Linked DNA regions of Homo sapiens: region 1 is linked to region 2. Evidence: fine-mapped expression QTL. Tissue or cell type: cerebellar hemisphere. Region 2 holds a variant in brackets; the other region holds the start of a gene. All regions are shown on one strand. Distances are between the middles of the regions.

Region 1 (6,106 bases), 250 kb before region 2:
TGAAGTGATAATTAATAATTGAGTAATTGAATAATTGAATTCAAAGCATTTATCTATAATCTCACAAAACGTAGAATAACATTATGTAGAGTTCATCTGTAATTTTAGAACAGTCATAACTCTCACTTAATATGTTGTAAAAAAGTTATTTACTCCATTTTATTAATCATCTTATGATGAGATGCTTAAAAACAACTTTGAGTAACTACTATTGATATTCAATACAGGCAGCATAGTACACATTCACACACACACATTTTCCTTTTAAAGTTTGGTTATGATATATTACCCTCCTAGCATAGTAAGTCAGGAAAAAGCTGCAACTGTCTTAAAGCTGAAAGTTAAAAGGCTTTTAAAAGCTCTGAGTTTAAATTGTTCAGTTATTCAGTATTAGCAAAATAAAAAGCTCCCAGTAAAAATAATACATTTTCATTTATTTAACAATTAAATGTATTTTTGGGTACTATTTAAGCCTATTCATAAAAATAAAATGCAATATTTGTTAAACAGGAAGGATAAATATTTTCCACCTATAATTTAACACAAATAGGAATATCAATTGGTACTAGATTATAAGCAAAATGTTCTCTATTGATGTAATGATCACATGATAATTTCTGACATAATTACTTTTAAAACAGCAATAATTTGCTAGAAGATGAACAGGATAATATCTTACTTTAAATGAGACATCTGTAATCACTCTTTCCCTTTGGAAGTAGGAAGAAATTTACAACAGAGTCTGCTAGTAGGTCATTTTATTACCCAAGCCCTTAGATTTTATATTTTTACATGAAAACATGGCTCACTTTTAAAGACAGCCATCACTCTATGAATCCTCCTATCATGGCAAGACTGATTTGATGTTCATCACAATGCATTTTAAGAGGCAAGAGTGACATATATCCTTATTAATCTCATAATGATAAAGGATTGATTTCAACCTATATCCCAGACTGTTACATGAAATAGGCTCTGCCAAAATATCAGGTTCAAAAGATGCTCAATTTAAGGAGATCAGTTTTATGCTCCATCCTCAAAGGACAGAGTTATATGAGGTGTAAGTACGTCACATGAGGCATTAAGAGAAATTTTCTTCCCCATAAACTAAACACTGTTTGTACTGTAGTAAGAACTTAATACATATCATTCCGTGTGTGGAAGAAATGACTCACACTCCCTCCCCCTCCCCCCAACAATAATGCAGCTTTCTCTTTTTTGTAGGAATTATCTAAAATGATCACATCACTAAGCAGATCAGTGAGAGGAGTGAGTTTGAGTAGAAAATAAAAAAGCATTCGTGGCTTAAAAACTTCCCCCTACTGCTTGGAAATGGCACACCACAGTAGAAGTTAAGAACACAGCAAGCAGAGATTAACTGAACAACACAGAAAATCAAAAACATTTTTTTAATGGGGAAGGGGATTAACAATGCCAGGGCTAATCTTGGAAACTGGTCTCTGAAGTAAGAGTTATTAAGAGAAAAATATGTTATGTTCTAGAATTCGATTTTCAACTTAATTGAAAACCTCTTTTTACTTCAGTAGTTTTCATAGAAGGTGGAGAGACAGTTTCTAAATATTGTTGCTGAATAACTCGATGTATCAGTTAAATTAGTTAAAGGGAAGCCCCTGTTTTGCATGTGGCTATCCACTCAACCACTCCAAAACAATTCGTCAATCACCTGTTCATGGTTTGGGCAAAGTAACCATCTGCCTTTCAATTCTGAAGAGACATTCTGCTAGAATCATGGAATTATTTATAATAAAAACTTACTCGGTTGAATTCTCCTGTTGACATAATAATAAAAATATATAAGATGATATTTTAAATTGTCTAGGATAATTTAATGATGAGGCGCTGCCACTGAATGATGAGGTTCAGTATTTCTTGACAGCTGTGTGTCTGGATATTATTTTATAACCTTACAACTGCTCAGGTATACAGTGAAGATCAAGCAAACTAATACCTGCTTGGCATGGTTGCATTTTTCCTGTTTTGGTCATGTATAGTGTAATTTAAAACTGTAAACACATTTTCAGAATCTACTCTATTTGAATTTTTCCCCCTCAGTATGTAAGGTAATTTTCTAGCTGAGCAGTTTGTGAATGAGCTTCAAAATACTCGATGAGAAATTGAGAATCATGAAATGGTCGCAGAATCAGCCAGAAGTATGTCAGTTCCCTCTCCAGAGAGTACAGAGAAATGTGTATAAGAGATATCAGGTACTCTGAAGTACAGAGGTTCTAAATACACTGTGGTCCCGATGTAGCAAAAAACAAATAATGATGTTAAAAACATAAGAAAATACTTATAAAATGCTGAAGGTCTTTTTTGAAAAATGATTTGCCATTATGTCCTATATCACACATATTTCCTCCTTGTTAAATGTATCACCAAATGATCAATAACCTTAAAATAATTTGGAAATGCATATTATATAACCCACAGCAGATCTGGTAATCTATCTCTTTCATTTGTCCCAGATTAGTTTTGTGGTAGGAAACTCAAATGGCTGTACCATGAGAGGCAGGCCATTAAAACATTTAAATGGTTTTACAGTGGTATTTTTCAAATGAAGAATGAAGTTCATAAATTTCAGCGTCAGTGGAGAAATGAGTGAGGGGGGTCGGCATCTCTGGAAGCTCTTTGAAAATAAAGCATTCATTATTTTGTTGTAAAAATCAGATATCTATAAAGCCATTTATAAAATAACTAGTTGGACATCTAGCACACCTACTTATTTTCATTTGAAAATTTAGCCATGCTAAGATGCATTTGAGGTTAAAACATTTCTTTCCTTCCTCTTTTCACGTAACCTCTCACGGTCTGAGGACCAGAGACTTGTTTAGAACTTACCGAAGTTTCCCAAAGCAAAACCACGCACAAGCTCCTAATTCAGCTGCCAGATCTGTGTGCAGCTTCGTTCAGCTTCTCACTACGCTAGGCATCACTTTATTAATCATGTATGAATTTCTGTGCATGCACCCTGAAGCGATCACACACACGCGGTGCAATCCCAATCAAAAACGGAAGCCTTACCTGATGGCAGAAAAGGCAGCTGCAGGAGCAGCAGCACCGACGGCCGCAGCAGGGTGCCAACAGCTCAGCCTTGCGCGGAAGGTGAGACCCTTCTCTTCTGTTTCCCCTTTCCAAATCACTGTGCCAACACACTGCTTTGCATTTTGTCCGTTTTCATTCAAAGAAGGTTCTCCAGGCCGGGCAGCCAGTAGACACCACTTTCTTCCTGGAAGAGGCTGCCTCTCTTCTCAGAAAAGCCTGGACCCCTCTCTGTGGCTCCCTCCACATTTACCCTTCAGATCAATAATGCTCTCGGAGCGGCTGGAGCTCAACTGCAGCGGCGAGCGGCGAGCCAATGGGGGCCCAGGATTCCCTCCTGTCATCTCCCCGCCCTCAAAACAAAACACAGCGTGCCTTTGACACATCATTGAGTAGTGAAAAGTAATTGAATCCTATATTTGAAATGTATTTTGTTTGTTCTTTTTCCCCCCTAGCGTTCATTGTAGAATGCTTTGAATGAATCCGAGGACTCCTTAGCTCTCAGAAGACTCATTAAACGAGCCTAGCAGCGGGTGAAGATTAGGCGCTGAGAAAGTGATAGCACCTGGGTTAGCACCCGAAGCTTTGCTTTTTAAATGCTTGAGATCTATTGCATATCAGAGAACTGTCACCTGGGAGGAAAAAATCTTGGGTTCTATTAGTCTTTCCTCCACTAAGTCGCTTGAGTCTTTTTTGTGAATCAAGACAATTAATTACGTTTACCTGGAAGCTGTCTCAATGTTTAATTGTCTAAACGAGAATCAGATGCTTATTGGTGACAATAACCATGCTCAAGCAATTTCTCCTAATTCACTTACTTGTTTCTAGGCTGATTTAACTTGGTTCAGAGTCTATGAAGAACTCAAGATTGCTAAGACTATATACATTAGTCTGGTCTGTTTTAATTTTGTCATGTTTAAATATTGTAAGATTTTAAAAATTAATGTTAATTTCTCTTTATATGAGAGAATTTATTAATAATTACCTAAAACTTTATAGAATATTATAATGGCAATAAAATATTACAATGAAAAGTGTTATTGTTGAAAACCTATTCCTCCAAAAGCCACAAAACAACTTTGCATTCTTTAACCATGATTATCTTTCTTTGTGTTTCACTATTAAAGTGCTAACTATTGAATAAACATTTGCTTAAATATATTCACCAAGAATCGTGTATTTTCTAAGACTCTAAGTCATTTTATTATTCAGACATCAAGAATGCCACAATATTTCAGATAATCATTTAATTTTGTTCTATAAAAAATCTCAAGAGTACAGAGTCTCAATACAGTTTTAAAAATATGTCTCCCTACAGGAGGACTGTACACAAATAACAATGTCTTTTCAATGCTAGTGTTGAAAAAGAATAAAATTATTGGGACTGTCTGAAATCTTTTTGTTTCACTGAATACAAATGTGTTGATGTAGGTGGTGTAGCCAAGCTTTGTGTATCGTGACAAATTGAAATGGCTTGGGGAGACTTTACAAACAAAACAATTTCGTGACCTGTCTATCACGTGAAGGGAGGCACGGAAAAATGTAATATTTACACACTGTATGCTGTGTCACTATAACAAGGTGAATGCTAACTTTATTGTAACTCATTTATGTAGCCAATAAATATTTCATTCAGGGCAGTCTCTGGCTAAGTTTGGTCACTTGGATTTTGTGAAGAAAAGAATATGCTGATGAAAAAATGAATCATAAACATTGCTTTTCCCTCAATTGTATAGTATATTTTTCATTTATTTAAATTCCTTTTTTGATCACAAATAATAGGTCATTGACTACAGAACATTGTCTTTGTACTACAGGTCGAGAGTTCTCAATGTGTGGTCCCCAGACCAATAGCAAAAACATCACCTGGAACTTGTTGAAAAGACAAGTTCTCAAGCCCTTCCCCAAGCCTATCAAATCAGAAACTTTAAGAGAATGGGACACTGCGATCTATGTTTTAATATCCCTCCAGATGCTTCCAATGCACATTCAGGTTGGACAGTCATTGCTCTAGCTAAGGGGTCTACAAATTACAACAGAAGACCAGCCACCTGCTTTTGTAAATAAAGACTTATTGAAACCCAGTGGTGCCGATTTCTTTATGTATTGTCCATGACCGCTTTCGCATTACAATGGCAGAGTCAAGTAGTAGCCACAGAGACTTACAATATGAATCCTAAAATGTTTACTATCTGTCATTTAAAAAATAAATGTTTTGACCCCTCCTAGCGCATTGTAAGATGTGCAATATTATTAGTACAAACGGCAAAAGTTGAAGAAAAAAGAGCATCTGAAGGTGGAGTGGAGAAGATCAAATTAATGAAATCATTGAGATTTGAAAGAGATTGAAAATGATCATGTAATAAATTACATTGGTGTGTGTGTTTTGCAGATTTTTGCTGCTCTCCCTGTAGGAGGGATGCACTTCTCCCCAGTCTTGGCATCTTAGTATGAAACATGAATGGAAAAGAATATTGCCATTTCCAAACAGAATATTGAAGAACAAATATAAATTTGTGCGCACTCTATCAGCATGGGTTGTTGAAAGAAGAGAACATTGGAGTCTTATTTGTCCCTAGATGGACATGTAGCATGGAAGGATAAAATAGCTTTTATTTCTACACCACTGAGATTTGGGGATTTTTTTGTTACTAGACTAGTAGTATCTAATCTCTCCTGACTAAAACAAGTTACAATTAATGTAAGCAGAGGTAGGAAAACAAGCATTAAAGCTTGTTTTGTAATGTAATGACTGGGACAAGGCATTTGCCTGGAAACTCAAAAATTACTTTTCGGAAAATAAAATAAATCAATAGAATTTGTTTAAGAAAATAAAGACTGGAAAGATAAAAATGGATATTAAAACATTAGGACAAATAATTAAGGCTAAGGACATCAGACTTAATTTATTAGCAATGGAAGCCATAAAGGCTGTTTAGAAAAGGTATGACATCATCAAAATTATGCTATAAGATTACTCTGTTGGCGAGGAAGAGATCAAAGGGCAATAAACAAAAGAAAATTCATCACAAGGCCGTGAAAAATT
Region 2 (6,106 bases):
TGACACAGAAAAGTAACCATAAAAATTGGGAACAAGCCAATGATATCCATAATGCTGATGTAAAGTTAATACATCATATGTTACATGTAGGGGAATAAGAGAGTGAAGACAGCAAAACTATCTTGTATATATTTTCATACACAAATATACTTATAACAAAAGAAAGATGAAATATTCATGACAATTACAGTCTTCATTTCTGTAACAGGTCATGTGGTCATAACTGATATTTAGACCTCTCTTCCACTATCCACTCTATATTTTCTTTACCTCAGCTGGTTATGTTTCTTTACCTGGTGGTAAACTACCGCCAAACTACCATTCTTGAAGAGTCTGGGCTATTAGTAGTCCTTCTTCCTGGAATAGGTTCTTGGAATTTTTCTGACTTAATCACAAGACATGAGCAGGACATTAAGAGCCATCCTCAAAGATTTCCTATGTTTCAGAATACTCTTCCTTGCTTCCCTTGTGGAGTAGTAGTCTAATTTCCCCACGGTGGTCAGGATCAATAACTCCAGCCAGCACTGTGACTCCCTTATATGCCTGTTGACTCAGATGCATGAGGAACCAAAGTGGCCGGGTGATGGTCATAACTTTCAGTTTAATGGAACCATTGTTGTGTGTTTTGATGGAAACATTCCTCCCTCTAGAACTAAGACACCTAGGACTGAAGAACTTAAAGTTGTAGAAACAGGAAATAAAATTTTGCTAGTGGATTGCTATAGGTAATAATGAGTGATGCCATTCCCATTTTTACCTTTTGATTTCTTGACTCAAGAATCCTGGTTATGAGAGAAATAGTACCACATTTCAGATGATGATTTAGAGCAATTACAGTTTGCCCTCCATATCTGCAAGTTCTGCATCATCAGATTTCAACCAGCTGCCAATCAAAATTATTTTTTAAGTAAAAATACAATAACAAATAATATTAAGTAAAAATGATACAGTATGACAACTACTTATATAACATTGACATTGTATTAGATTTTATAAGGAACCTGCAGATGATTCAGAATATCTGAGAGGATGTTCTAGGTTATATGCAATTACTACACCATTTTACGTAAGAGACTTGAACATCCTCTGATTCTGATATCCATAGGGAATCCTGGAAGTAATTCCCTGTGGATACAGAGCAATGACTGTCCAGCCTTCAGGAGAACCTAGTTTCCTAGGTAATAATAATTCTAGTAGTTTTCACCTGGCTTTTCTCACCATAAGAGCCCTCATCCAATAGGTCAAGGAACCAATGTGGTGACTGCCAGCTGCTGAATCTGTGTATTCCAACTCCGCATTTCCCACCTGGGGAAATAACCAAAGTTATTGAGCCCACTCTGAGATGGACCTAAGCTCAAATTCTATTAGTCGTCTAGCAGCCAGAAAGTCCTACTCTGACTGGTGGAACACAATGGTGTTTTGGTTCTCCTGGAATTAGTGTCAGTTCAGAGACAGTGTCAGTAGTTCCCAAAAGTTCTGATTATTGCCTTTTTCCAAATTTATGGTTATCCTCGTAAAGGGTTTTAGGTCTCTTTGAGAAAGGCTGAAAGAGTGAGTAACAATATGCATTTTCAGTAGTGTATCAGGTCCTTCTTCGAGAAAACCTGACTTCTTCATTCAAGGGGTTCAGGGTGTGTAAACTGACTCAAGTCTAGGATTTAATTTGGAGTCCATGATTCTCTCTCTCTCTCTCTCTCTAGTTTCTTTTCTTTAGTCTTTTGTGGGTGCAAATATAGGCTAAGCTTTTGTTCACTTGACCTAAAACTTTTCTGCTTACAAAGATTAAGTAAGATTTAGTAAGATTTCTGTCTATTTCACTTCTAGAAACACCACCATCAAGTAGCCAATGTCACAAGTCTGCGTAAATCAGACTATTCTGATTGCTACTTTGATCTCCTATTCAGTGTAGTCACCATGTACACATTGCCCTACGTGGCCCCTGCCCCCCAAGGATCCAATTACTACCACTGTATTTAGGTTTCCCAATTCAGTAACCAAATTTTTCACTGTAAGTTCTGCTCTACAGAGAAGAGCTATCACAGAGCTTTCAAGGATACTTTCAGCCTCACCTCACAAATATATTCCTCACAGTTGTGGTGAAAGGTCTTTTGGCCCTTCCCAGTGTAGATAAATATCTCTAACTTTCAAATTCATTCCTGTACATCAAACCAAGGCAGATCCAGCATTTCTGATTTACTCACTGTGGGCCATATATGGTTTATATTTCAAGTAACCAAATAAATTGTCAGAGCTTTCCTGAAGCTCAAAATTGCAACATTAAATGCAGAGTCTCTGCTATTGTGAATAGTGCTGTGATGATCATACTAGTGCATGTATCCTTTTAGTAGAATGATTGCTGAGTAAAATGGTAGTTCTGTTTTAAGTTATTTGAGAAATCTCCAAACTTCTTTCCACTGTGGCTGAATTAATTTAAAATTCCACCAAGAGTGTATAACCATTCTCTTTTCTCCACAATATCTCAAACATCTGTTTTTTTTTCTTTTTGACTTTTTGATAATAGTCATTCCGACTGGTGTGAGATAGTATCTCACTGTGGTTTTGATACACCATGGAATACTATACAACCATAAAAAAGAATGAAATCATGTTCTTTGAAGCAACATGGATGCATCTGGAGGTCAATATCCTACGCAAACTAATGTAAGAACAGAAAACCAAATACTCATGTTCTCACTTATGAGTGAGAACTAACCACTGAGTACA[C/T]ATGGAAATAAAAATGGGAAAAATAGACGCTGGGGACTTCTAGAGAGGGGACGTTGGGAAGGGGCAAAGGCTGAAAATCTACCTATTGGGTACTATGTTCACTATCTGGGTGATGGTATCATTTGTACCCCAAACCTCAGAGTCACACAATTTAGCCACATAGCAAATCTGTACATGTACCCTCTGAAACAAAATTTTTAAAAAATTAATAAAATAAATATAAATAAATAAACGCAGAATCTTTGCTTTGTGAGCACATATCAATAATTCAGCCTGATTCAACTTTATTTTCCTTCCACCATTTTCTCACACCCTCAATGTCTATTTCCAGACATTTTGCTTAGATTTCCGAGGAGGATGGGGTGGGTCCTGAGGAGAACTAACATTTACTTACATGGCAACTGCCTCAGGAAACATCATTATAGTTTCCTCAGGCAATGCGAGCTAATTCTTTCAGACACTGGTGAAGACGCTGTTGCCACAGGCCAGAAAGTTGTTTGCACTGGGGGTGAGGAGGCAACTTTGGTGGAGAGGCTTCTTCCACTGTCAAAGAAGTCATCAGAATTTAAGGGTTCTATATGCCAAAGTTCAGGGTCTTTCCACATATCCACATTCCAAATTTTAAAATCTCATACCTTCCCTATTAATGCCCTAACTTTAACAGCAGTTGTTGTGTAAGATGTCTACTCTAAAGGTAGGAGTTCAACTTGTTAATTCAGCCAGTCATAAGATGAGATTAAGTGTTTGATTTTCAACAATCTCAGCCCCTTTGCTACAGGATATTGGAATGTCTTTCAGGGCACACAAAGATGCCTTCAGGTCATTAATATGGCACTTAAGCAGGAAATTTAATTCCCCAAGGTCCTCCCTTTTTTTTTTAACCACTTATTCAGGCAACATTAGGAGCAACCAACGAATCTTGTTAGATTTATTAGTTTTCCAAAAATATTCAACAATGTCATAAACACGGTCATTTGGTTCCTTGTATCTTATTAGCGCTGGTTAAGAATATCCAATGTACCAGTCCAGGCAACATGACAAAACCCCATCTCTCCTGAAAACAAACAAACAAACAAACAAACAAAAATAGCCGAGTATGGTGATGTGTGCCTGTAGTCCCAGCTATTCAGGAAGCTGAGGAAGGAGGGTCTCTTGAACCCAGGAGATGGAGCTTGCAGTGAACTGAGATCACACCACTGTACTCTAGCCTGGGCAATAAAGTGAGATCCAGTAAAAAAAAAAAAAAGAGTATTCAATGTAGATATTTTGTGTATCTCTAGTATCTCTATTGCCAGAATGCTTCCTTCACTACTACAAATAGTTATTGGCATCTTAAAAGCCAATTATATTAGACAGCCAAATCCAGAAACCACAGAGACAATTTAAAAATCTGTACAACCACTCTCAGCACCAAAATCTGTTTTAGTCAGGTTTCTGTAGAAAAACAAGGCCAATATATAATTAACCATATGTGAAGTTTTAATGTATAATCTACCCATTTAGATAAACTTTTCTTAGCCCCTGAAGCTGAATTCAGTTTTTCTCAGTTCCACAGAATGCATTTAGCTTTACTGGACAGATGTAGTGACAAGTCTAAATTCTTCACTTCTGCCTTAAAATTGTTAATAAATAGACATATCTCATTGACCCCTAAGATAAGAAATGCTTTTGTGTTTTTTCTCTACTATTATTTTCTCAATGAAGTGTATATTCTATATTATGAATAAAATGCAAAGCTTTAGGCTTATTTCATAAGAATGTGCTTTAACCTGGTTTTTGGTGCATCTACCCCTAAAATATATGTTGTGTGTTATATGTGCGTAATTCTATAAAGTGTAATTGTATAGAGTTACCTTTATGTATGTGAGTATGGTGGATGTTATGATTCACAGCTCAGTTCCTCCTTCAGGCTGAGGGTCTATTTCCAATGGCTGATAGGAGTATTGTTGGCAGAGAGCCCTCAGCTGTCAGCACTCTTCCAAATTAACTTGGTTAAAAAAAAGGTCACATATGCTCCCCTGGAAGCCTCCACCCTGGGACTGGCTATGAAGGACAATAAAAATATAATTTTTTGACCATACTTGGACACTTAGGAAGATCCACTGAAACTTGAGAGCTCCCCATGTACAGCTAGTTTTTCATTGAACCTTCTTTTCACCCAAACGTCTTTCTCTAATCAGCCCTGCTTCTTTCCTTTTTCTTCCAGGGATTTGATCCTAAAAGTGTACAGTAATAAATACTCTGCCTGCTAATCTAAGTCTCAGAATCAGCTTGCAGGGAACCTAACCTCCAGTAATGATAGATTTATAGATGATAGGTAGCTAGACAGATTAATAGATTTACAGATAGACAACTGGATCCTTAGGTAGCAAACACAAAGTAACCGGGTTCAGTTAATTCAGGATTCTATAAATAATAAAAATTTTCTCTCGAATTAAAATATGTACGCAATCATCTTATATTATGTAGATATCAATTTGCATCCTGATTCTACCACTTACTAATTGTGCCAACTGGGAAAGTTATCCTCTGTAAATTTCAAAATTTTTATTTTACAATGGTAGTAATAATAAATCCTAATATTGTTGCTGTTAAAAAGTCAGTGAGAGAGGGGGCTTCAGGATGATGACTGACTAGAGTCATCTGACATTAGCCTCCTCCACAGAGAAGAACAAAAATAGCAAATAGATAATCACACTTTGAAAACAGCAGCTACAAGATATAATGATATTCTATAATGATATCAATAATATAATGATATTCCCAGGAAAAACCTGAGGAATAGAAGGAGAGGGAAGTGAGGCACCCTGCCTACCTGGGATCACCTGGGACCCTGAAGAGGCTTGCCATGTGGAGAAAAGGTAAGTGAGAGATCCCCAGCCGTCCATATTCCCACAATCCTAGCCACAGGAGAAGCTTTTGATTCCTGTGAGCCCTGAGACCAGTCTGGGAGCTACCTGGAGTCCGTAAAACATCATTGCTTTGGAGGGAGATCATGATGGGTCCCGCGCATCTTCTGAGACCCAAGCAGTTGGAACATGGTACCATTTTGAGAACGAAGCCCTGACAAGACAGCATCCTGCCCTGGGGCTCAACAGTTCCTGAAACTCCATATCCCTGGAGCCCCATAGGATATCCCTCCACATCCACCCAAAGGGCTTCAGTGGTGGGATGTCAATTGAACCCAGAAGTCTTGCAGGGTTCCCAGTGCTCTAAGCTGCACAGTGTCCTATGCCTTGGAAAATGGCAGTGTAGTACAGGTAGTAGGCTGGTCTTGGGACAACAGGAGCAAAAATGTGTACTGTTCAGAGCCTGAAAGCCACCTGGCCATTGCCACTGAGAGTAATGCCACCCACACCAGAAACAGAACTGCTGTGCAATT

The links. PIP is the estimated chance that this variant, and not a neighbour inherited with it, causes the effect.
Region 1: CDH12 starts here. The variant in region 2 is the best candidate, but not a certain one, in a credible set for the expression of CDH12 in cerebellar hemisphere (GTEx, PIP 0.80).

Annotation. Positions count from the first base shown.
Region 1 is chr5:22,850,016-22,856,121 of GRCh38, forward strand. It overlaps CDH12 (cadherin 12), which reads right to left and starts at 3,329. Exons shown (of 15, transcript NM_004061.5): 1 at 3,043-3,329.
Region 2 is chr5:23,099,088-23,105,193 of GRCh38, forward strand. No RefSeq gene overlaps it. Among named protein-coding and RNA genes, the nearest start is that of CDH12, 250 kb to the left of the region's middle. The variant C/T (reference allele first, on the strand shown) is at 2,725.